Regions from separate parts of the Homo sapiens genome. Here region 2 is linked to region 1. Evidence: fine-mapped expression QTL. A gene starts in region 1. The other region holds a variant in brackets. All regions are shown on one strand. Distances are from middle to middle.

Region 1 (12,305 bases):
TGGTAGGAGCTGGGACTGCAGGAGAGGCTGTCACGTGGGAGCTGAAAGATCGGAGATGCAGCCACTCCCAGAGGTCACACACGAGGCCGAGTGAGATGGGGAGAGATGCCCTGGTGTCTTTCCTCATTAGCAGAGCCTGGCCAGAAGCCAGAGGGCAAGGGAGGCTGGGAAATGTCACTTGCAGAGCTTGCATGGGGTGAGTCCCTGCAGATACAGATCAGAGAAGGCCAAAGTCAGAGAAAGTGTCTGAGAACAAACAGGATGATGACCAACTCCTGTACCATTATCAGTTAAGCCATCCTTTTAAGGATTTGACCTCTCTCTTAGGAACAATGGGAGACCACTAGAGTGTTTAGCCATACGATGTGGATATATTTGTGTTTCAAAGACACCGCTGGCTGCTGCTTTATGAATAGAGTGGGTGCAGAAAGCCCAGATGAGAGGTTACTGCAGCAGCCTAGTGAGTCATGATGCTGGCTGTCAAGATGGAACAAAGCAGAAGGAATCTTAAGCTATTCAGAAGGCAAAATAGTCAGGAGTTGATGATTATGGAGGGTGAGGTAGAAGGAGATGAAGGGGTGAATCCAGGCTTAGGAGAGCTGGAGGATGGTTATGTCATTCACCAAGACAGGGAAAACCTGGAAGAAGGTGTTCAGTTTGGAACATGCAGAATTTGGGGTGCCTGGGAGATGTCCCAGTGGTGATGTTAGGTGGGCAGTGGGATAGAAGGGTCTGGAGTTCAGAGGAGAGGTCTGGAGGGAAAGGCATGTTTGGGAGTCATAGGGGAGTAGGTGATAATTGATGTAGGCATTGAAGAACCCACCTGGGGAGAGAGAAGGGAGTGAGACTGGAAGATGGACAAGGACTGAGCCTTGAGGTCATTCAACATTTATCATTCAGAGGATGAGCCTGTAAGGGAGGCTGAGAAGGAATGAGAAGGGAAGCTGGAGAGAAGCAGGAAAGTGTGGTGCCGCAAAAGCCAAGTAGAGAGTGGCCAACTGCATCGAATGCTGCTGAGAGGCTGAGATGATGAGGAGAAAGAAAGGAGGATGGATGGAAACCACTGGCTCCTGGAGTAGGACTCTCAGCCTGACTGGAGAGGATTGAGGAGGGAAGGAAGGTGGAGAAGTGAAGGTTGCAGCCACAGAACTTTGGCCATGAAAAGGGAGAGACATATGATGGGGAGCTGGAGGGGTTGCGAGAGATGGGAGAAAAAATTAATGGTAGTGTCTTGTGCTTGTTAAAAGCTAACAAGGACCAGGGGCGGTGGCTCATGCCTGTAATCCTAGCATTTTGGGAGGCCAAGGCGGGTGGATCACCTGAGGTCAGGAGTTCGAGACCAGCCCGGCCAACATGGTGAAACCCCATCTCTACTAAAAATACAAAAAAATTAGCCAGGTGTGGTGGTGGGTGCCTGTAATCCCAGCTACCTGGGAGGCTGAGGCTGGAGAATCACTGGAACCCGGGAGGCGGAGGCTGAGGCGGAGTCTGCAGTGAGCCAAGATTGCACCACTGCACTCCTGGGGAAGAGAGCGAGACTCCGTCTCAAAAAAAAAAAAAAAAGGCTGACAGGAAGGATCCAGGTTAGAGGGCGAGGTTAAAATATAAGGGGAAGGATTGGCCTTAGGACGAAGGGCAGCTCTCCAGACAGCACAGGAGTGTGGGTCTGTTGCAAGGGGTCTATGTGTGGTGGCCCCATTTACCATGATAACCGTGACACAGTGTGGTTAGAGGCCGCTCCACAGGTAGGCACCAAATCCAAGGGGAACATAGAGGAATGAACAATTCATTTTCTAACTTTCAGGAAATGTCAGTTGAAAACCACTCACTTTCCTATTAACTCCAATTATCCAATAATCACAGAGTTAAATAGAATGCATGTTATCATAGTGTGTACCTAGTCTAAGCTCTTCCTGTACATGAAGAAAACAGACCAGAAAAAACTTAAATGCTGGGTTTAGACTAGGAACTTAGGGTCTCATAGTCCATTCCAGGGTACTTTTCACTTAGCATTGTCCCTGTGGCATAGAGAAGCTTGGGGGTAAAAGAATCTAGTGTGACACACAAAGGAGAAAGCTGAGATATTTACAAATGATTCTTGTCCTCTGTTTCCCTTTAAAATAGCAGACTTTTCTGCTGGGCATGGTGGCTCACGCCTGTAATCCCAGTACTTTGGGAGGCCAAGGTGGATGGATCGCCTGAGGTCAGGAGTTTGAGACTAGTCTGGGCAACACAGCAAAACCCCGTCTCTACTAAAAATACAAAAAAAATCTGGGCATGGTGGCACATGCCTATAGTCCCAGCTAATCAGGAGGCTGAGGTAGGAGGATTGGTTGAGCTGGGGGCTGGAGGCTGGAGTGAGCTGAGATCACGCTACTGCACTCCAGCCTGGGTGACAGTGCGAAGGAGACCCTGTCTCAAAAAAAAAAAACAAAAAACAAAACACAAAACCAACAGATTTTTAGTTATAAGGCTTGCATGGTATCATAGTATAAAACCAAGCATTCAGTTCAGCTCTGTTCCAATTGATAATGAAACAATCATTGTGTATCTGAAAGAGAAATCTTTTTATCAACAGGAAGCCTGACCTTCCTTACATGTCATACCAAGAATAGATGGTGAAAATTTTTGCTTTTGAGGCTACTTAAGATAGGAGAAGTTGCACATGCTTTCATAGGGGTGAAAGAATCTGTATGCTTGCTTAAAACTCCTCATTTCTATAATAAATTAAGTCCATAAATATTGAATCTTAGGCTATAATCTGGCATAACATAAACATCTTCCTCTCTAAACAAGACTCTAATTGTTTTAATAATGACTGCATTCTCATAACAGAGGATATTCTTCTTAAACAAGGAGTCACAGTAGCTAAGAGAGAAAATGAAGTAATTGGTATATCTGAAGGAAATAGAAAATACTTCCTGATAGAGATTCCATTTGGAAATGAATTATGGCAGATATGCAAATGAACTGTATGTGTTCACACAATAAGATTTTAAAAATCTGCTAAGCAACTCTCTGGAAAGTACGAGATTTTATTAGAAGACATAGATTATTAGAGAAGACCAAACAATACAATGTTAGCAAACAAAAAGCAAAAGAAATTCCACAAAACATAGATTTGATATGTGGCGAATATGTGGGAATTATTTGAAAAAAAGTGTTACGGTTATAATAATGAATGAAACAAGGGCATAAAAGTCAAAGTTATTTTTAGTAGGACATAAAAGACTTTGTATTCTGGAATGAAGAAGTAGTAAGTATTTATTAGAAATTTCGGTGAGTCTGCTTTAAAGACTTTTTTTTTTCACATTTGGTGGCGAATAAAAGTAATCGAGAGTGGAGAGAATAAGGAAGTTATAAGAAAAAACTGGCTAGGTGCGTTGGCTCACGCCTGTAATCCCAACACTTTGGGAGGCCGAGGCGGGTGGATCACGAGGTCAGGAGATCGAGACCATCCTGGCTAACACGGTGAAACCCTATCTCTACTAAAAATACAAAAAACTAGCTGGGCGTGGTGGCGGGTGCCTGTAGTCCCAGCTACTCGGGAGGCTGAGGCAGGAGAATGGCGTGAACCCGTGAGGCAGAGCTTGCTGTGAGCTGAGATCGCGCCACTGCACTCCAGCCTGGACGACAGAGTGAGACTCCATCTCAAAAAAAAAAAGAAAAAATTAAGTTAAGCGTGTAAATGTTAAATGTCCACTGGTGGGGTAGAGGGAGTTATGTTAAAGAATACTTTAAAATATTTAAACACCCCAACTTTTATAAACAATAGTAACATTAGAGTCATTTGCAACTGAGATGAAAGCCTTATTTCCATATACAGTGTGGGCCTGACCCTTGATATACGCTATGGTAAAGAAAATGGAACACCAGATTCAGCTGGTGACACTTAAACACCTCTTACCTGATAGCACATTGCAAGTGAAGACTTTGATGTATAAAAGAGAATTCGTAAGTAGTACTGAGTACTAAGTCATATTAACTAAAATCCACACAAAGCTCTGGCCTATGTTTCATTTGTCTATTCATTCTATGCACTTATCCCACAAATATACAGATTTGCTTTGATTGGGCAGCTCTTTGCTGGTCTCACCTGGACTCACTCTTATGGTTGCATTCAGCTGGGGGATCGGTGGGTGGCTGAGCTCAGCTGGGAGAGCTGGGGTGGTTGAGCCTCTCTGCAGTGTTTCCTCCTGGGCTTCCTCAAAGCATGATGGCCTCAGAGCAGTTTTCCAAAAGGGTGAAGGCAGAAGCTGCAAGATCTCTTCAGTTCCAGGCTCTGGAGCTGATACACCGTTAACTTCTGCCACATTCTACTGGTCACAAGCCTAGCCCAGGTTGATAGGAGTAGCTGTAAAATACTGTGGCCATGTTTTCCAACCCACCACAGATGGTGGTAAGTGCTGTGAAGAAAAATCAAGCAGGGAAGGAGAAGGGAAGTGCTGAGATACACCAGGGAGAAGGCTTCACTTTTAAATAGGGTGGTCAGGCAAGACTGAATTGAGAAAATGATGAGAGTCAAGACCTCCTGAAGGTAAGGGCGTGAGCCATGTGACTGCCTGAGGGTAGAGCACTTCAGGGAGAAGGAACAGCTGGCTCAAATCCTGGTGAGCTTGAGAAACAGCAAGAAAGTCAGTGTGGGTGGCCCAGAGTGAGGGGCCCGCAGCAGGAAATGTCCTCAGAGAGGAAACAGAGCAGACCAGTGAGGCAGTACTGATCACTGCAAGAACTTAGGTTTTCCTTCTGAGTGAGATGGAAAGCCACTGGAAGTTTTCAACAATCAGATGGACATTTTAACAGGATCACAGACAGAAGGGGCAAGGGTTAAAACAGAAAAACCAGTCTGGAGGCTGCTGCAGTAACCCTGGTGAGAAATCAGGGGAGGGGGAAGATAGTTTGCTTATGGATGGATTGTGGGTGTGACAGAAAAGGAGCAAGGGTGATTCCAAGGTTTTGGGCCTGAGTAACTGGAAGGATGAATTTCTGGTAAACAGGGTGGGAAATCCTCTGGAGGAGCAGGGTGTGGGGAAGATCAAGAGCTCAGTCTTGTACCTGTTAAATTTGACCTGCCAGGGAGACAGCCAAACTGAGGTCTTGAGTAGTCTACAAGATCTATGGGTCTGGAACCCACAGGAGAGGGCTGGGCTGGAGATACTCACTGGGAGTCACCCCAGATATAAATGGCCTTTAGAGCCACAGGACTGGGTGTGATCACTCTGGGGTGAGGGCAGAGAAATCTAAGGACTGAGCCCTAGAGTTTGAGGAGGTGAGGGCAGTGGGGTATTAGGAGAGACAGAATGTGGATCCTGGATATCAAGGGAAGAAAGAGTGTCAAGGAGAAAACAGTGATTACTACGGCAAATGCTGCTGAGAGGTCAGTGGGATAAGGACTGAGAATTGGTCAGTGAATTTAACAACTTGGAGGTCACGCAGATGCTTGACAAGAGCAGTTTCTATGAAGTAGTGGGATGAAAACCTTATGAGAGTCAGTTCAACAGAGAATCAATGAATTGGAGGCAGCTAGTGTAAGCTACTCTTGAGGAGTCTTGCTTAAGGGTGTGACCACTGGAGTGAGTGGCAGTCAAGGCAGGGGTGGAGAGCACATCACTGGAAGAGATGAGATCAGGGGATGGAGAGGCCAGGGTATGAGAAGCATCAGCCATGTGGGTATTGAAATCACCAAGAATTATCAAGAGTAGTGATGGAGAGCTGGGAGCTAGCAACTCAGCGAGTGATTTGTGGGGCTGCAAGAAGACACAGTGACTGCTGGAGTCCAGTCACATGAGACTCAAAGCTGGGTGTTTTTAGGGAAGGAAGGAGAGCAGCAATGAAGAGAAATGAAGACGTCTTGCATGTTGCCAGGTCCAGTTGGATGAGGGGAGCAGAAGTGTTGCAGAAGAAACAGTGTCCTTGGGGGAGAACCAGGTTTTAGGGAAAACAAAATGGAGGGAATTTGTAGGGAAGGGAAGAGGACGGAGGAAATTTTGTTGGTGTAAATATTGGAGGGCACAGAGGACAAGTTTCAGAAGTCAGGAAGGGGTGGGAGTTGCAGGAATAAAAGGGAATGTAAAGAACTACTTGGAATTAGAGTTAGGAGAATGTGAGTTGAGCTGGAAAACTGGGTTTCTTGTGTTGAGGTATCTAACTAGGATAAAGGGCAGGATGAGATTGCTGGACTCAAAGCAGATGGTGGTGGACAGTGTTGGGGGCAGGGAGGGGTGCTGGCCTTGCCACGCACACTGGATCTGGATCCGGGATCCTGCAGCTTCCACTGGGCTACTGCTAAGTTGAAGGAGGTCTTAGGCACAGCACTGGGGCCCTGGTTCCTCGTCTGTGAAGGTGGAGCTGGCAGAGGGTTGGGCTGATCTGAGGCCCCCCAGACTTTGCTGGGTTAGTTAGTGGGTTTGAGAGCTAAGGGTGGAAGCTACAGCAAGAACTTTGAAAGTTGCTCCTTTCACTTTGCATTCACCTTAAGGACCTAACAGCAAGGAATGGTGAAGTTGGGAGGACTCCAGAGCTCCTATGCTTTATTAGGTGCCTTATGCCCTCACAAAACTTCAGTTCTGGGCTGTTGTTTGACCGAAACACAGCACTATGGCTTCAGGGTCATCAACGGCTATTTGAAGCATGAGGTATGGGAAGAATCCAAGCCCATATTTTTCATCCTTAAGAAGATCTGGAGGAGGAGCCAAGATGGCCGAATAGGAACAGCTCCGGTCTACAGCTCCCAGCGTGAGCGACACAGAAGACGGGTGATTTCTGCATTTCCATCTGAGGTACTGGGTTCATCTCACTAGGGAGTGCCAGACAGTGGGCGCAGGCCAGTGGGTGCGCGCACCGGGCGCGAGCCGAAGCAGGGCGAGGCATTGCCTCACCTGGGAAGCGCAAGGGGTCAGGGAGTTCCCTTTCCAAGTCAAAGAAAGGAGTGACGGACGCACCTGGAAAATCGGGTCACTCCCACCCGAATATTGCGCTTTTCAGACCGGCTTAAAGAACGGCACACCACGAGATTATATCCCTCACCTGGCTCGGAGGGTCCTACCCCACGGAATCTCCCCACGGAATCTCGCTGATTGCTAGCACAGCAGTCTGAGATCAAACTGCAAGGCGGCAGCGAGGCTGGGGGAGGGGCGCCCGCCATTGCCCAGGCTTGCTTAGGTAAACAAAGCAGCCGGGAAGCTCCAACTGGGTGGAGCCCACCACAGCTCAAGGAGGCCTGCCTGCCTCCGTAGGCTCCAGCTCTGGGGGCAGGGCACAGACAAACAAAAAGACAGCAGTAACCTCTGCAGACTTAAATGTCCCTGTCTGACAGCTTTGAAGAGAGCAGTGGTTCTCCCAGCAGGCAGCTGGAGATCTGAGAACGGGCAGACTGCCTCCTCAAGTGGGTCCCTGACCCCTGACCCCCGAGCAGCCTAACTGGGAGGCACCCCCCAGCAGGGGCACACTGACACCTCACACGGCAGGGTATTCCAACAGACCTGCAGCTGAGGGTCCTGTCTGTTAGAAGGAAAACTAACAAACAGAAAGGACATCCACACCGAAAACCCATCTGTACATCACCATCATCAAGACCAAAAGTAGATAAAACCACAAAGATGGGGATAAAACAGAACAGAAAAACTGGAAACTCTAAAACGCAGAGCGCCTCTCCTCCTCCAAAGGAACGCAGTTCCTCACCAGCAATGGAACAAAGCTGGATGGAGAATGACTTTGACGAGTTGAGAGAAGAAGGCTTCAGACAATCAAATTACTCTGAGCTACGGGAGGACATTCAAACCAAAGGCAAAGAAGTTGAAAACTTTGAAAAAAATTTAGAAGAATGTATAACTAGAATAACCAATACAGAGAAGTGCTTAAAGGAGCTGATGGAGCTGAAAACCAAGGCTCGAGAACTACGTGAAGAATGCAGAAGCCTCAGGAGCCAATGCGATCAACTGGAAGAAAGGGTATCAGCAATGGAAGATGAAATGAATGAAATGAAGCGAGAAGGGAAGGTTAGAGAAAAAAGAATAAAAAGAAATGAGCAAAGCCTCCAAGAAATATGGGACTATGTGAAAAGACCAAATCTACGTCTGATTGGTGTACCTGAAAGTGATGCGGAGAATGGAACCAAGTTGGAAAACACTCTACAGGATATTATCCAGGAGAACTTCCCCAGTCTAGCAAGGCAGGCCAACGTTCAGATTCAGGAAATACAGAGAACACCACAAAGATACTCCTCGAGAAGAGCAACTCCAAGACACATAATTGTCAGATTCACCAAAGTTGAAATGAAGGAAAAAATGTTAAGGGCAGCCAGAGAGAAAGGTCGGGTTACCCTCAAAGGGAAGCCCATCAGACTAACAGTGGATCTCTCGGCAGAAACCCTACAAGCCAGAAGAGAGTGGGGGCCAATATTCAACATTCTTAAAGAAAAGAATTTTCAACCCAGAATTTCATATCCAGCCAAACTAAGCTTCATAAGTGAAGGAGAAATAAAATACTTTACAGACAAGCAAATGCTGAGAGATTTTGTCACCACCAGGCCTGCCCTAAAAGAGCTCCTGAAGGAAGCGCTAAACATGGAAAGGAACAACCGGTACCAGCCGCTGCAAAATCATGCCAAAATGTAAAGACCATCGAGACTAGGAAGAAACTGCATCAACTAACGAGCAAAATCACCAGCTAACATCATAATGACAGGATCAAATTCACACATAACAATATTAACTTTAAATGTAAATGGACTAAATGCTCCAATTAAAAGACACAGACTGGCAAGTTGGATAAAGAGTCAAGACCCATCAGTGTGCTGTATTCAGGAAACCCATCTCACATGCAGAGACACACATAGGCTCAAAATAAAAGGATGGAGGAAGATCTACCAAGCAAATGGAAAACAAAAAAAGGCAGGGGTTGCAATCCTAGTCTCTGATAAAACAGACTTTAAACCAACAAAGATCAAAAGAGACAAAGAAGGCCATTACATAATGGTAAAGGGATCAATTCAACAAGAGGAGCTAACTATCCTAAATATATATGCACCCAATACAGGAGCACCCAGATTCATAAAGCAAGTCCTGAGTGACCTACAAAGAGACTTAGACTGCCACACATTAATAATGGGAGACTTTAACACCCCACTGTCAACATTAGACAGATCAACGAGACAGAAAGTCAACAAGGATACCCAGGAATTGAACTCAGCTCTGTACCAAGCAGACCTGATAGACATCTACAGAACTCTCCACCCCAAATCAACAGAATATACATTTTTTTCAGCACCACACCACACCTATTCCAAAATTGACCACATAGTTGGAAGTAAAGCTCTCCTCAGCAAATGTAAAAGAACAGAAATTATAACAAACTATCTCTCAGACCACAGTGCAATCAAACTAGAACTCAGGATTAAGAATCTCACTCAAAGCCGCTCAACTACATGGAAACTGAACAACCGGCTCCTGAATGACTACTGGGTACATAACGAAATGAAGGCAGAAATAAAGATGTTCTTTGAAACCAACGAGAACAAAGACACAACATACCAGAATCTCTGGGACGCATTCAAAGCAGTGTGTAGAGGGAAATTTATAGCACTAAATGCCCACAAGAGAAAGCAGGAAAGATCCAAAATTGACACCCTAACATCACAATTAAAAGAACTAGAAAAGCAAGAGCAAACACATTCAAAAGCTAGCAGAAGGCAAGAAATAACCCTTCAAAAAATCAATGAATCCAGGAGCTGGTTTTTTGAAAGGATCAACAAAATTGATAGACCGCTAGCAAGACTAATAAAGAAAAAAAGAGAGAAGAATCAAATAGACACAATAAAAAATGATAAAGGGGATATCACCACTGATCCCACAGAAATACAAACTACCATCAGAGAATACTACAAACACCTCTACGCAAATAAACTAGAAAATCTAGAAGAAATGGATACATTCCTCGACACATACACTCTCCCAAGACTAAACCAGGAAGAAGTTGAATCTCTGAATAGACCAATAACAGGAGCTGAAATTGGGGCAATAATCAATAGTTTACCAACCAAAAAGAGTCCAGGACCAGATGGATTCACAGCCGAATTCTACCAGAGGTACAAGGAGGAACTGGTACCATTCCTTCTGAAACTATTCCAATCAATAGAAAAAGAGGGAACCCTCCCTAACTCATTTTATGAGGCCAGCATCATTCTGATACCAAAGCCGGGCAGAGACACAACCAAAAAAGAGAATTTTAGACCAATATCCTTGATGAACATTGATGCAAAAATCCTCAATAAAATACTGGCAAACCAAATCCAGCAGCACATCAAAAAGCTTATCCACCATGATCAAGTGGGCTTCATCCCTGGGATGCAAGGATGGTTCAATATACGCAAATCAATAAATGTAATCCAGCATATAAACAGAGCCAAAGACAAAAACCACATGATTATCTCAATAGATGCAGAAAAAGCCTTTGACAAAATTCAACAACCCTTCATGCTAAAAACTCTCAATAAATTAGGTATTGATGGGACGTATTTCAAAATAATAAGAGCTGTCTATGACAGACCCACAGCCAATATCATACTGAATGGGCAAAAACTGGAAGCATTCCCTTTGAAAACTGGCACAAGACAGGGATGCCCTCTCTCACCGCTCCTATTCAACATAGTGTTGGAAGTTCTGGCCAGGGCAATCAGGCAGGAGAAGGAAATAAAGGGTATTCAGTTAGGAAAAGAGGAAGTCAAATTGTCCCTGTTTGCAGACGACATGATTGTTTATCTAGAAAACCCCATTGTCTCAGCCCAAAATCTCCTTAAGCTGATAAGCAACTTCAGCAAAGTCTCAGGATACAAAATCAATGTACAAAAATCACAAGCATTCTTATACACCAACAACAGACAAACAGAGAGCCAAATCATGAGTGAACTCCCATTCACAATTGCTTCAAAGAGAATAAAATACTTAGGAATCCAACTTACAAGGGATGTGAAGGACCTCTTCAAGGAGAATTACAAACCACTGCTCAAGGAAATAAAAGAGGATACAAACAAATGGAAGAACATTCCATGCTCATGGGTTGGAAGAATCAATATCGTGAAAATGGCCATACTGCCCAAGGTAATTTACAGATTCAATGCCATCCCCATCAAGCTACCAATGACTTTCTTCACAGAATTGGAAAAAACTACTTTAAAGTTCATATGGAACCAAAAAAGAGCCCGCATCGCCAAGTCAATCCTAAGCCAAAAGAACAAAGCTGGAGGCATCACACTACCTGACTTCAAACTATACTACAAGGCTACAGTAACCAAAACAGCATGGTACTGGTACCAAAACAGAGATATAGATCAATGGAACAGAACAGAGCCCTCAGAAATAACGCCGCATACCTACAACTATCTGAACTTTGACAAACCTGAGAAAAACAAGCAATGGGGAAAGGATTCCCTATTTAATAAATGGTGCTGGGAAAACTGGCTAGCCATATGTAGAAAGCTGAAACTGGATCCCTTCCTTACACCTTATACAAAAATCAATTCAAGATGGATTAAAGATTTAAACGTTAGACCTAAAACCATAAAAACCCTAGAAGAAAACCTAGGCATTACCATTCAGGACATAGGCATGGGCAAGGACTTCATGTCCAAAACACCAAAAGCAATGGCAACAAAAGCCAAAATTGACAAATGGGATCTAATTAAACTAAAGAGCTTCTGCACAGCAAAAGAAACTACTATCAGAGTGAACAGGCAACCTACAACATGGGAGAAAATTTTCGCAACCTACTCATCTGACAAAGGGCTAATATCCAGAATCTACAATGAACTCAAACAAATTTACAAGAAAAAAACAAACAACCCCATCAAAAAGTGGGCGAAGGATATGAACAGACACTTCTCAAAAGAAGACATTTATGCAGCCAAAAAACACATGAAAAAATGCTCATCATCACTGGCCATCAGAGAAATGCAAATCAAAACCACTATGAGATATCATCTCACACCAGTTAGAATGGCAATCATTAAAAAGTCAGGAAACAACAGGTGCTGGAGAGGATGTGGAGAAATAGGAACACTTTTACACTGTTGGTGGGACTGTAAACTAGTTCAACCATTGTGGAAGTCAGTGTGGCGATTCCTCAGGGATCTAGAACTAGAAATACCATTTGACCCAGCCATCCCATTACTGGGTATACACCCAAATGACTATAAATCATGCTGCTATAAAGACACATGCACACGTATGTTTATTGCGGCATTATTCACAATAGCAAAGACTTGGAACCAACCCAAATGTCCAACAATGATAGACTGGATTAAGAAAATG
Region 2 (12,305 bases), 36 kb after region 1:
GCCTTTCCTCCCCAGTCTAACTGCCATTCAATCTAACATGCCTGGTTAATTTTCCTACCTCCTGACACTCTCCTGCTCAAAATGTTCCAAAGCTCCACATTATCATCAGAACAAAATCTAAATGTCCTGATTGTTCATTTAAGTCCCACCACAATATGGCCCCAACCTACCTGTCAAGGCCATCCCCGGCACCCCTCTGCAGGATCCTCGTGAGACTGGTCTGCACAGTCATCCAAGTGTACCATGGATGGTCTTTTCCTCACATGTTAACATCTCTGAAATTGGATAGAACTTCCCCTACCTTCTTCAGCTGGATTGCCCTCTGTGCTTAGAAAAAATGTACTCATCTTTCTGTTCTCACTGGCCACTCTTTGCCACCACATATTCATGTCCTCCCAGGAAATCACAGCATTTACTGTGCTTCTTCTACACTTTTGGCACCAGGTCACACAGCAAGCAAAGGGCGCTGTTACAGATGTTTAACAAGCTCATCATAATTTATTGAACAATTTTAAGTTTTTAAAAATTGACAGCTCACAAATGATAAAAACAGTGAAACAGGAATACAATAAAAACCCAAGTACCATTAATAGACTCTCCAGAAATTCCTGTATATGCACAAGCAGACACACAATGCATCAATTTAAAATTTTTTTAAATTGTGGTAAAATTTGCGTAACACTTACCATCTTAACCATTTTAAGTGTACAGTTCAGGAGTGTTTAGTATGTTCACAGTGTTGTGCAAACAATCTCCAGAACTTTTTCATCTTGCAAAACTGAAACTCTGTACCTATTAAACAATAACTCCCTCCTCACACGTACTCCCAACCACCATTCTACTTTCTGTCTCTGATTTTGACTACTGTAAGTATCTAAGTGGAGGCATGCAGTATTTGTCTTTTTGTGACTGACTTATTCACTTAGCATAATATCCTTAAAGGTTTATCCATGTCGTAGCATGTGTCAGAATTTCCTTCGTTTTTAAGGCCGAGTAATATTCCATTTTATGTATATATCACATTTAATTTATCCAGTCATCTCTCCATGGACATTTGGGTTACTTCCACCTTTGATTTATTGTAAATGATGCTGCTTTGAACATGGTGTTCAAATATCTCTTAATGACGCTACATTCAATTCTTTTAGATGTATACACACAAGTGAAATTGCTGGATTATACTATGTCAATTCATTTTTGTATGAATTTTTCACATATACTATTCTCTCACCTGTTTTTAAAAATGGTGTTACTTGGATACTTTTCCATATAAGCACTTATGTATCCACATTATTCTTTCAATGACTGCATAGTATTCTACCACACACATTTACTGTGATTTATTCCCCTGAAACTCTTTGAGAAAAATTTAGTTATTTCCCACGTAAAATAAAGAGTGCTGCAGTGAACATCCTCATACATATTTCCTTGCACACATGTGACAGTAAACAAATTTCTAAAAGTAGAATGGCCGAGTCAAAAGCTATGTATTTTTCATTTTAATAAACACTGCCAAAAGACCCGCTAAAGGGGTATTCTGATTTTACACTCCTACCCAGTGGATACGTGTGGCAAATTTCAAAAAAGGTCTTTTTGACTTTTATTTTCATTTTTTTTTTTTTTTTTGACGGAGTCTCACTCTTTTGCCAGGCTGGAGTGCAGTGGCATGATCTCAGCTCACTGCAACTTCCAACTCCCTGGTTCAAGCTGTTCTCCTGCCTCAGCCTCCTGAGTAGCTGAGATTACAGGCATGGGCCACCACGACCAGCTAGTTTTTGTATTTTTAGTAGAGATGGGGTTTCACCATGTTGGCCAAGATGGTCTCGATCTCCTGACCTCGTGATCGGCCCACCTCGGCCTCCCAAAGTGCTGGGATTACAGGCGTGAGCCACGGTGCCCACCCAGTCTATTTTCATTTCTTTTAAGCAGGAACAGTTCTCAGGAGCTCTCACATATTGGATACATCAGTTCTGGTAAATTTGTTACATTGATCTTGTTACTCTATGGCCTTTCTTATCCTGCTTAATGACACATATTTTTCCAAGTCATATACTTTATTGTTGTTCACTTTTAATGCAAGAAAATCTTGTCTTTTTTTTTTTTTTTTTTGGAGACGGAGTTTTGCTATAGTCACCCAGGCTGGAGTGCAATGGCGTGATCTCAGCTCACTGCAACTTCCGCCTCCCGGGTTCAAGTGATTCTCCTGCCTAAGCCTCCCGAGTAGCTGGTATTACAGGCATGTGCCACCACGCCTGGCTAATTTTTGTATTATTAGTAGGGACAGGGATTCACCATGTTGGCCAGGATGGTGTTGAACTCTTGACCTCAGGTGATCCACCCGCCTCGGCCTCCCAAAATGCTGGGATTACAGGCGTGAGCCACCGTGCCTGGCCGAAGATCTTGTCTTCTTAGCTAGATCCTAAGACCCTGGAGAGTGGAGCTAATTTACTATACCATTCTTACCCTACAGTTAGTTTGATTCCAGAAACTTGCTAGCACTTGTTAAATTTGTAGATAGAATGAATGAAGTTTTCGTTTTTTATTTTTACTTCAAAGTGAAGAGGTCTTCAGTCTTCTTTTTTTCATTTCTTTCCTATGTTTCTTGTGTGGTTGTCATAGATGAAATAACTGGCACCACTCAATTCTAACATCCACAATAACAGCAGCAATAATAAGAGCCACTCATATTTATTTTTGAGTGTATAATATGAACAAGGCATTGTTCTCATTGTTCTAAAATGCTTGACATGTGTGGTCTCATTCAATGCTCACCAATTGAGATAGGCGCTACTCTTTTTTTTTTTTTTTTTGAGATAGGGTCTCACTTCCTCACCCAGACTGGAGTGCAGTGGTGCAATTATAGCTCACTGAAGTGTTATCCTCCTGGGCTTAAGCAATCCTCCTGCCTCAGCCTCTCAAATAGCGAGGCCTACGGGCACATGCCACCACAGCTGGCTAATTTTTAAATTTTTTGTAGAGATAGGGGGTCTCACTATGTTGCTCAGGCTGGTCTTGAAGTCCTGGCTTCAAGCGATCCTTTTGTCTCAGCCTCCCAAATTGCTGGGATTACAGGCATGAGCCATTGCACCCAGCCCTGCTACTCTTAACTATGTCTTACATAAGAGGAAACTGAGGAGCATGAGGTGAACTGACTTGCCCAGGCTCAGTACCTGGAAAGCGGCAGTTCCTCCATAGAGACTTCTGGTTCATCTAACTGCCTAGGCCATGCTCTTCATCCTGCACCATAATTGTTGTGGCATATAAAACTCAACTCACCCACTGTCATCTGTATATCAATCAACCACACCTCTTCCATTTCTCACGGGGCTATGTGGCATCTTCAGGGTGGGGCAGAGGAATTAAAAGTTTCCTCATTTGGCTGGGAGCTGTGGCTCACGCCTGTAATCCCAGCACTTTGGGAGGCCAAGGCAGGTGGATCACCTGAGGTCAGGAGTTCGACACCAGCCTGGCCAACATGGTGAAACCCTGTCTCTACTAATAATACAAAAAATCAGCTGGGCATGGTGGTGCGCGCCTATAATCCCAGCTACTCAGAAGGCTGAGGCAGGAGAATCACTTGAACCTAGGAGGCAGAGGTTGCAGTGAGCCAAGACTGCGCCACTGCACTCCAGCCTGGGCAACAGAGCAAGACCCTGTCTTAAAAAAAAAAAAGTTTCCTCATTTAGGGAGGATCCTCATTTTTAGGGATGGTGTCTTTTAGGAAGTGGTTATTATTTCCAAGCATTCTTATTGTTCCCAACTATAGGTATATTTATGAAAGAGGATTCTTTCTTTTTTAGATAAAAGTATGATTTCCTTCAACTTATAAATTTCATATGCAGGAGAGATGAAGCCTCAGAGAATTGCGTCTTTTTTTACTAAGGCCTACTTGTGAAACCCACATTTTAGAAAATGACAAGTGTGATGGGATCATCACAAGACAGGATTATCACATGACTTTAAACTTTCATACAATAATCATCAAATTTGAGAACTTCAAAGGGACTTGGTTACAGTGAAAAATATTACTATAGAATAAGCAATATCTATCCGGGTGTATCTGCTTGGCCATGGAAATAGATGACATCCATATGGAAATATAGCACCTATATTCAGTTTTTAGTCTGTGAAATAATAAACAGGCAATCATAAATTATAGAAAAAAGGGAGTTCAACTTCTTACAGTAGAGAATAAACATATATAAAGCATTACCTCCTAAGAGGTAGCACAGCCTTCATAAAGAGTTTAGGTAAATTTAAAAGTAAATTTATCTTTTCAGATCCACAATAGGCTAGCAGCAACTAGGATTTGGGTAGGGGTGGGAATTAAAGAGGGGAGGCCCAGTCTGTGCCAATCTTTGAGGAAACTGTTGTTCTCTTACTTACTTGTCTCTTGGTTCAATCATCATCCATCAGATTGGAATGATGGTTTAGGGGAGCGTGACCTAGAACCTAAATTCTCATATAATCAAATGCAAAACCTGCAGCTGATGGTGCTGTCTGCCCCAAGGGCCCAGGCTCCACACAGCACTCCCTGGTGGCTGCTCCTCACTGACACAGACGTCCAAGAACTTACCTTTTTCTTCTTTTTATGCATAGTGTTAGACTTCTTGCTATTTTTCCAAATTGATCTGAAGGTATCTGAAGAGATCTGGGGAGTGACTGTAATTTTTAAGACCGGTAGTTTACCTGCACGGGGAAAGAACATAATCATAAATAGGTAGGATATCTCACAACTACATTAGAGGGAGTGGGTCTTAGGCTTCTGAGAGAGGCATTCTCCCACATTCTTATTAGCCGAGTGACTTTCCTCTGACCTCATACCTCTTCCTTATACCTTCTTGGTGCGAGTGATGCTGACAATTAATTTACCTCTGAAGTAACTTCTTACACTTGTCCTGTCTTTCCCATTCTCACTGTCATGTCTTTTACCTGGATGATAGAGTAGCCTCCTAACCAGTTTTCCTAATCCCAAACTTCCCCAACCCCAAGCCCATCCTGGACCCTGCTTCCAGATTAATCATCTGAAAGCAACATTCTGATCTTCTCATTACCAGCTCTAATACCATTACTGGCCCTCTTTCTTTAGTAGACATCTCTTGTTTCCGCCTACCCAGCTTCCATTTCAGCTTCTTTCTGCAACAGCACTTTGAGTTTGTTTTAGGGTTCCACTCCCCTGCCCTCCAGGGTATGCACGTAGCCCAGGGATGTCTAGTGTATTTCATCTCCCTGGCACAGTGATTGGTTAACAGGTGTGCATGTGACTCATGGTCCTCCAGTGAAAGTCCAAAGAAGAGCTCCTTCTTGAGATTATTAACCAGGCAGAATGTAACCCTCTGGCTAATGCTGCTCAACTTGCCCCCATGTGGGAAAGAGCCTGCCTGAGAGTAAAGTCAACACAGCAGCAGAACTCCCAGGAGATGGAGGTGGGCGGCGTTATGTGAACCCTTGATTTCAGCTGGACTTTAAGCTAGAACCACCCTGGACTTACAGGAGTCAACAGATTTGCTTTTGTACTTAAGTCAGTTTGAATCGGTTTTGTATCACTTGAAACCCAGAGTTCTCACTGATTTTCCTATAAAATAAAGACTCAAATCCCTAATGTGTTATTACAGAGCCTGTGTCAACCCCTCCTCCATATTCTTTCCCATGGAACTCTCCCTTCTCCTCCTTCCTGCTTCTCATTTAGCCATACAGCTAGGTCCTGCTTATAAGGCCGGAGGTGCCTAACACTACAGTTTCTGGAGGCCAGGCTTCTCCAGGGAGAGGCCAAAAGCAGAAGGGAAAACAAGAAATACAGTTGAGAGGAAAAACAAGAACTTTAGAAAATAGTACTGAATTTCAGCTCCAGAGGGTAAATTGAGGTTGAAGTATGAAAATGCTTGTACAAGTATGAGGTCAAATCAGGCTGGGCACAGGAAAGAGCAGTGGAAGGCAAGGTGGATGAATATGGAAAGGAACCTGGAGGTGTAAGACAATGTGGTTTAGAATGTCACAACTTGAGGCCGGGCGCAGTAATCCCAGCACTTTGGGAGGCCGAGGTGGGCGGATCACCTGTGGTTGGGAGTTTGAGACCAGCCTCACCAATGTGGAGAAACCCCGTCTCTACTAAAAATACAAAATTAGCCAGGCATGGTGGTGCATGCCTGTGATCCCAGCTATTTGGGAGGCAGGAGAATTGCTTGAACCCAGGAGGCGGAGGTTGCAGTGAGCCAAGATCACACCATTGCACTCCAGCTTGGGCAACAAGAACGAAACTGTCTCAAAAAAAAAAAAAAAAAAAAAAAAGAATGAGCCAGAAATCAGATACTAGCACTTCCTCCTTGTCCTTTCTTCTCCTTCTTCTGGTCTGGAATGGAGAGGAGAGGTCACAGGTGTGGGAGCCACCTTGCAGCCATGAGG[A/T]TAAGGGCCACTTGCTGAGGTGATGGTGGAGAAGGAGAGAAGGAATCTGGGACGTTGATGATGTGGTGCAGTAGCTGTACCTGCCCAGTCGTCTTCCACCTGTGTAGGGCACTGTAGCTGGTTCTGTTACCTGTAGCCAAACACTATCTCTATATGATGCAGTATTTAATCGGAAACAGGTATAAATCCTGGCCAAGGAGAAAAACAAAGCTCGGAGTTAGAAATATAGAGGACAGGTCCAAAGCAGGGGAAGGCAAAGTCTTCAGTAGGAAAACAAAGGTCAAAGTCTTGACCACTGAGGCAAGGAGGGAGTGTGGGATGCACGGCGCAGGCTGTGAGGTGTTTCATATGCTACAGACCATTTGAAATGGGGCCAGGAGTGTGGAATGGAGACCAGCTGAGACCTCAGAGGATTCATGTGTCGCCTAAGCTCACAAAAGACTGTTATGTTTCCTGGATGCCACACTTTCGGTCATCCTTTCTACTTATTTTCCACTTATAAAATTCTACTCATTCTTCAATGAAGCATATCCCAAGTGTTTGAGACTTCCTCTTCTTTTGAGGAAACTAAGATGATTTAAGCCAGCATTAGGTATTGACCTGGAGTTATATAACAACAAATTACATGGTGAGAAAGCTAGGCACTTTTCAATTCTCTCTTTAAAAATATTTTTGGCTGGGTGCAGTGGCTAGTGGCTTATGCCTGCAATCCTAGCACTTTGGGTTTCAGGAGTTCAAGACCAGCCTGGGAAAAATGGCAAGACCTAACCTCTACAAAAAATTTAAAATTAGCCAGGCATGGTGGCACATGCCTGTAGTCCTAACTACTTGGGAGGCTGAGGTAGGACGATCACTTGAGCCCAGAAGTTCAAGGATACAGTGAGCTAAGATCATGCCACTGGACTCCAGCCTGGGCAACAGACCAATTTATTTTCTTTCTTTTCTTTTCTTTTCTTCTTTTCTTTTCTTTCTTTTTTTTCTTTCTTTCTTCTTCTTTCCTTCCTTCCCTCCTTCCTTCCTTCCCTCCCTCCTTCCTTTCTTTCTTTCTCTCTCTCATTCTCTCTTCTCTTTCCTTCCTTCCTTCTTTCCCCCTCCCCCTCCCCTCCCCTCCCCCTCCCTCTCTTCTTCTTCTTCTTCTTCTTCTTCCTCTTCCTCTTGTTCTTCTTCTTGTAGAGATGGGGTCTCCCTAGGTTGCCCAGGCTGGTATCGAACTCCTGGGCTCAAGTGATCCTCCCACCTTGGCCTCCCAAAGTGCTGGGATTACAGGTGTAGGCCACTGCACGTGGCCCCAAGTTCTCTTCTGCAGAGGCAGCCACTTTCAACTTATTCAGCAGTTTTTCATGATATTTACTGCCTGATTTTAAACAAAGTGCTTATTATATTATTTCTTGATATTTCCATTTAAAATTTTACATATTGACTTTTGTAACTTCCTCTCACCAAGCCTCCCAATAAAGATATATCACAATTTTTAGTTAAATCAACACTTGGTGTATTCATTGGTATATTTTTGTACATATTTCATTGTATATCTGTCTTTTGTCTAAGTTAATAATTGCCTGTTTTGTCATTTGCAGAGTTTTCTGTGTACTTATTCTAAATATTTTCCCACAGGTTTCTGTCATTTCAAATATACTTATCAATATTTCTTTCAAAACACCTAAGTATCTATTTTTTATTTTTGTATTTTTAGTAGAGATGCGGGTTTCATCATGTTGGCCAGGCTGGTCTTGAACTCCTGACCTCAGTTGACAAAATACTTAAGTATTTCACATGCTCTATAAGTTCAGTTTTTAACCAAGTCTTTCTCCTTTACAAAGTCTTCTACTTTTCTGCTCCAATTTGGATTTACCTCAACCATCATCTGGGACTCCCTTTTTTACTGTCCTATATTGGGCCTTCCGATTTCTGAACTTGGCGTTCTTTGTTTTTGTGGTTTATTTTATTTTATTTTTATTTATTTATTTTTTTGAGACAGTCTCATTCTATTGCCCAGGCTGGAGTGCAGTGGTGCGATCTCGGCCCATTGCAACCTCCGCCTCCTCGGTTCAAGTGATTCTCCTGCCTCAGCCTCCTGAGTAGCTGGGCTTACAGGTGTTTACCACCATGCCTGGCTAATTTTGTATTTTTAATAGAGAGGGGGGTTTCGCCAAGTTGGCCAGGCTGGTCTCGAACTCCTGACCTCAAGTGATCTGCCTGCCTCAGCCTCCCAAAGTGCAGGGATTACAGGCATGAGCCACTGCGCCTGGCTTGTCTTCCTGGTTTATTTTCTCATTTTGCTCAAGCATGTTCTTTGGAAGTTTCTTAAGAATAGACTCAGAGGAGGCAAATGTTTGGAATGTTTGCATGTTGAAAACATCTTTATTTTGGCCTCATACATGGTTAGAAGTTGGGAAGGTATAGACTTCTCATAGAATTGTCACAGTAGCACTTTGTTGCCCCTAGCTTCTAGTTACGAAGTCTGATGTCATTCTAATTCCCAGTCCTTTGGATGCAAATTGTTTTCTTTTAGTTAGCTGTTAGGATCCCCTTTTTATTCCTAGTGCTCTGAATGCCATCATGATATACTTTTTGTATTTCCCTGTGCTGGACACCCAATGGGCTCTTTCAACGTGCAGATTTATGTTCCTTGGCTCTGGGAAAGTTCTTTATTTATTCCTTTGATAATTCCCTGTCTTCACTTTTCTCTGCTTTCTCTTTCTGAAAACTCTTAGTTAGACACTGATGTTCGTAGGTTGATCCTCTGTCTCTTATACTTTCTCACCAATTTTTCATCTCCTTATCTTTTGTTTCACTTCTGAAGCTTTCTTTCTTTTTTGGGGGGTGGGGTGGGGGCTGAGTACAGGTGACTTTGTTGATGGTACACAACAAAGCAGAGTTCCCCAGACCTTCCCTCTTCAGGGGGGATTCTCAGTGTGGTGGGGGACTGAGTGCAGCAGGGACTCCCCAGCAGCTGAGGGCCTCTCTCATCCTCTTTGCTCTGACTGGTGGTTCAGGGGTCTTACTCCTTGGAGGTTATGTGGAACTTGGCCTTGTTCATACTGGAACATGCTCATACTAGAACATGTAGGCCATGTAGTTGTGGTCAATGAAGGGGTCATTGATGGTGACAACATCCACTTTGCCAGAGTTAAAAGCAGCCCTGGTGACCAAGGCCCACTGTGGATACATCTGTTTATTCTGGCCTTCACCTTCACCCTGGTGTCTGAGGGGCGCAGCTGGTGCTGCATGAGAAAATGCAGCTGTCTCTCAAACTGGAGGAGCAGAGGGCTGACTCTCTTGATTTTATCTGTCTACCTTTTTTTCCCCCCAGAATATTTTATTTTGTCTATCTTTTTTACTGTCCAAAAACTTTTTCTTATTTTCTAATTGTTCTTTTTTCATAGTACCCCATTCCCTTTTTATGGATGCCTTATCCTTTCTTCCATTCAGAATGCTATAATGTTACAGCTTTTTTTTGGTTTTTCTTTAGTTTTCTGCATTGTTTCTATATCTTCAGGGTTCCTTCATTCCCTCTGTTTCAGAGTTGGTCTCTCGTGTTGGAGACTTGCCTCAAGTGTCTGGAGGTTCTCAGGTATCTTGTTCACAATGAAGCATAAGACATACAAAGGCTGATGGGCAGCTGTCATGTATGTTCAGGGCTTGCTGACCTGCTAGGCTTCTTTGAATGGTGAGGAGATGGCCAGCTGTCAGCATCTAGAATTTCTTTTTCTAGGGCTATTCAATTTCTCAAGTAATACCCCAATCTTCTACATGGCTGTCAGCCTTCTGGAAGCAGGGCAGACAAGCCTAGGGTGGTAGTAAGGACTGAGTTTCAACTGCTCAATATGTACAACTTTCCTTAATTCTCATCTTTGTAGCTTCTCCCCAACCCACATTTTCCACCTTGCTGGGTGTTCTGGGTCTGCTGAAAGGCTCTGTGTAGTTTTCCCAGAGAAAACTCCCTAACTAGAATCCTTGTTCTGCCCTTGCCTCCCCTATAGTCTATTTTTAACATAGAGCTGAAGCAATCCTGTTAAAATGTGGGTTACATCAGGTTACTTCTAGGTTTATCATTCTCAAAAGCCTTTCCTTGTCAACAGTTACACCCAAAAGTCCTCACAAGGGTCTAGAAGGCTTTCTGCTCTGCATACTTGCATCTCAAATTGTTTGTCCTCTGACTCTCCCATTCTAGCTCACTCCATTCAGCCATGCTGGCTGCTTTACTGAACACACCAGGAGGCTCCTACCTTAAGGCCTTGGCACTTGCTGTTCCTTCTAGCCAGAATGCTCATCTCTCAGATATTCACATGGCCTGCTCCATCACTACTTTAGGTCTTTACTTAAGTGTCCCTTCTCAGCAAAGCCTTCCCTAGCTACCCTAAGATGGCAACCCCCATGCCCTGACACACACTTTACCCCCTCATTTGCTTTATTTTTCCTCTAAGTATGATCCCCATCAGATATACAATCATATATATGCCTCATGAAGGCAGGAATTCATGACTCTCCTCCTACCAGGCCCAGAACAGGGCCTGGTACATGATAGGCATTTAACAAATATATATTGAAAGAAATAAGAATGAATAAATGAAATGTTCCTTCAGTACTCTGTTTTCTTATTAGTGAAAAAGCAGTAAGACAGGATAACAGCTTATTGTTTCACTAGCTATTTTTTTTTTAATGAAATGAGCTTGCTAATGTTTCTGAGGAAGATTTCACTGGGCCTCGTCCATCATTAAAGGCAGGTCATTAAGATCTCCTTGATAGCCAAGTAAGTGACCTCAGGCTGTTAATTTGGATTTCATGAACGAATTAGAATTAGAATTAGAAATTAGCTTGTTAACTTGCAAATGTTAAGAAACAATCAATTGAAGAACATTAGCTCTATAATCAGTAATACTATTAATTGCTTTTAATGTTTAAAATGATGCCATTAGGGCTGAATGGGAAGAGATTTTTCCTATAAAACCCAACCAGTTAACCCTGTTTTGAGGAATCTTCTTGGTGTTCAAACTAACAATCCAATTGAAGTATTCCATCAGAAACACCATAATTATTTCAGCTCAAGAGAGGGATGCATTAAGGCTACTCATGATACATATTACTATATTTGAAAAAAAGATTTCTTGAACTATAAATTACTTTTTAATGCCTTCTAAATGCGTATTTGTATTTTCAGGTGGATATTTCATAATTATCTTCTCATTTATGCAAATTAAAACATTTACTAAGCAAAGCATGATGTTTTCCAGCTCCAAATACATACTCAGAGATAATCACTTTCCATCAAGTCATCTGAGACTGATTGTCATTAGCATTCACTATAGTCATGGTCATGAGACTGCCTGCAGACTTGTAACATCTTCTCCCTCAATGTACAATGAAAAAGTTACTACGGTGCCAGGAAAAACAAATGAAAGCATTAACCTGCCTTCAGTTTATCAAGCTTAAAGCTATATTTGAACTAAATTTAACAGAGTAATTCTGCTGAAATTGAATTCAACTCTAATGGAATAGAAAGTAGATATTCTGTTTCTCTAAAATAAAGGGATAACTTAAACATCATGGAATCACTTGATTGGCTGTTAAAAATGTAGGAGTTTTAGTTTTAAAAATGTCAATACAATATACAGTAATATCATTATAATTCTTCTATCTAAAACTCTAGAGCATTAAAAGAAAAATGCAATCTATGATTATGCTATGCCTCTAAGACCATTCTGAGGAAATGGTAGAGACAGATGCTTGGACTGCTTAATTCTCTCCGCTTGACCTGCCCAGTAACATACCAAGAGTTCTTTCTACTTTCCTTAAGGTTGAATTTGCATTTTCAAATCTGTTTATGAAGTCTTCCATTGAGCTTCATTTAAAATGACATTTCTTCACCTCCTCTGCATTAGCAGGGCAAGCAGCCGTCATTA

Evidence for each region.
Region 2: its variant is fine-mapped to the expression of GRK7 in whole blood (TOPMed, PIP above 0.99).

Annotation. Positions count from the first base shown.
Region 1 is chr3:141,757,530-141,769,834 of GRCh38, reverse strand. It overlaps GRK7 (G protein-coupled receptor kinase 7), which reads right to left and starts at 6,427. Exons shown (of 6, transcript NM_139209.3): 1 at 4,097-6,427. RefSeq lists a silencer at 7,008-7,182.
Region 2 is chr3:141,721,675-141,733,979 of GRCh38, reverse strand. No RefSeq gene overlaps it. Among named protein-coding and RNA genes, the nearest start is that of RNF7, 10 kb to the left of the region's middle. The variant A/T (reference allele first, on the strand shown) is at 6,403.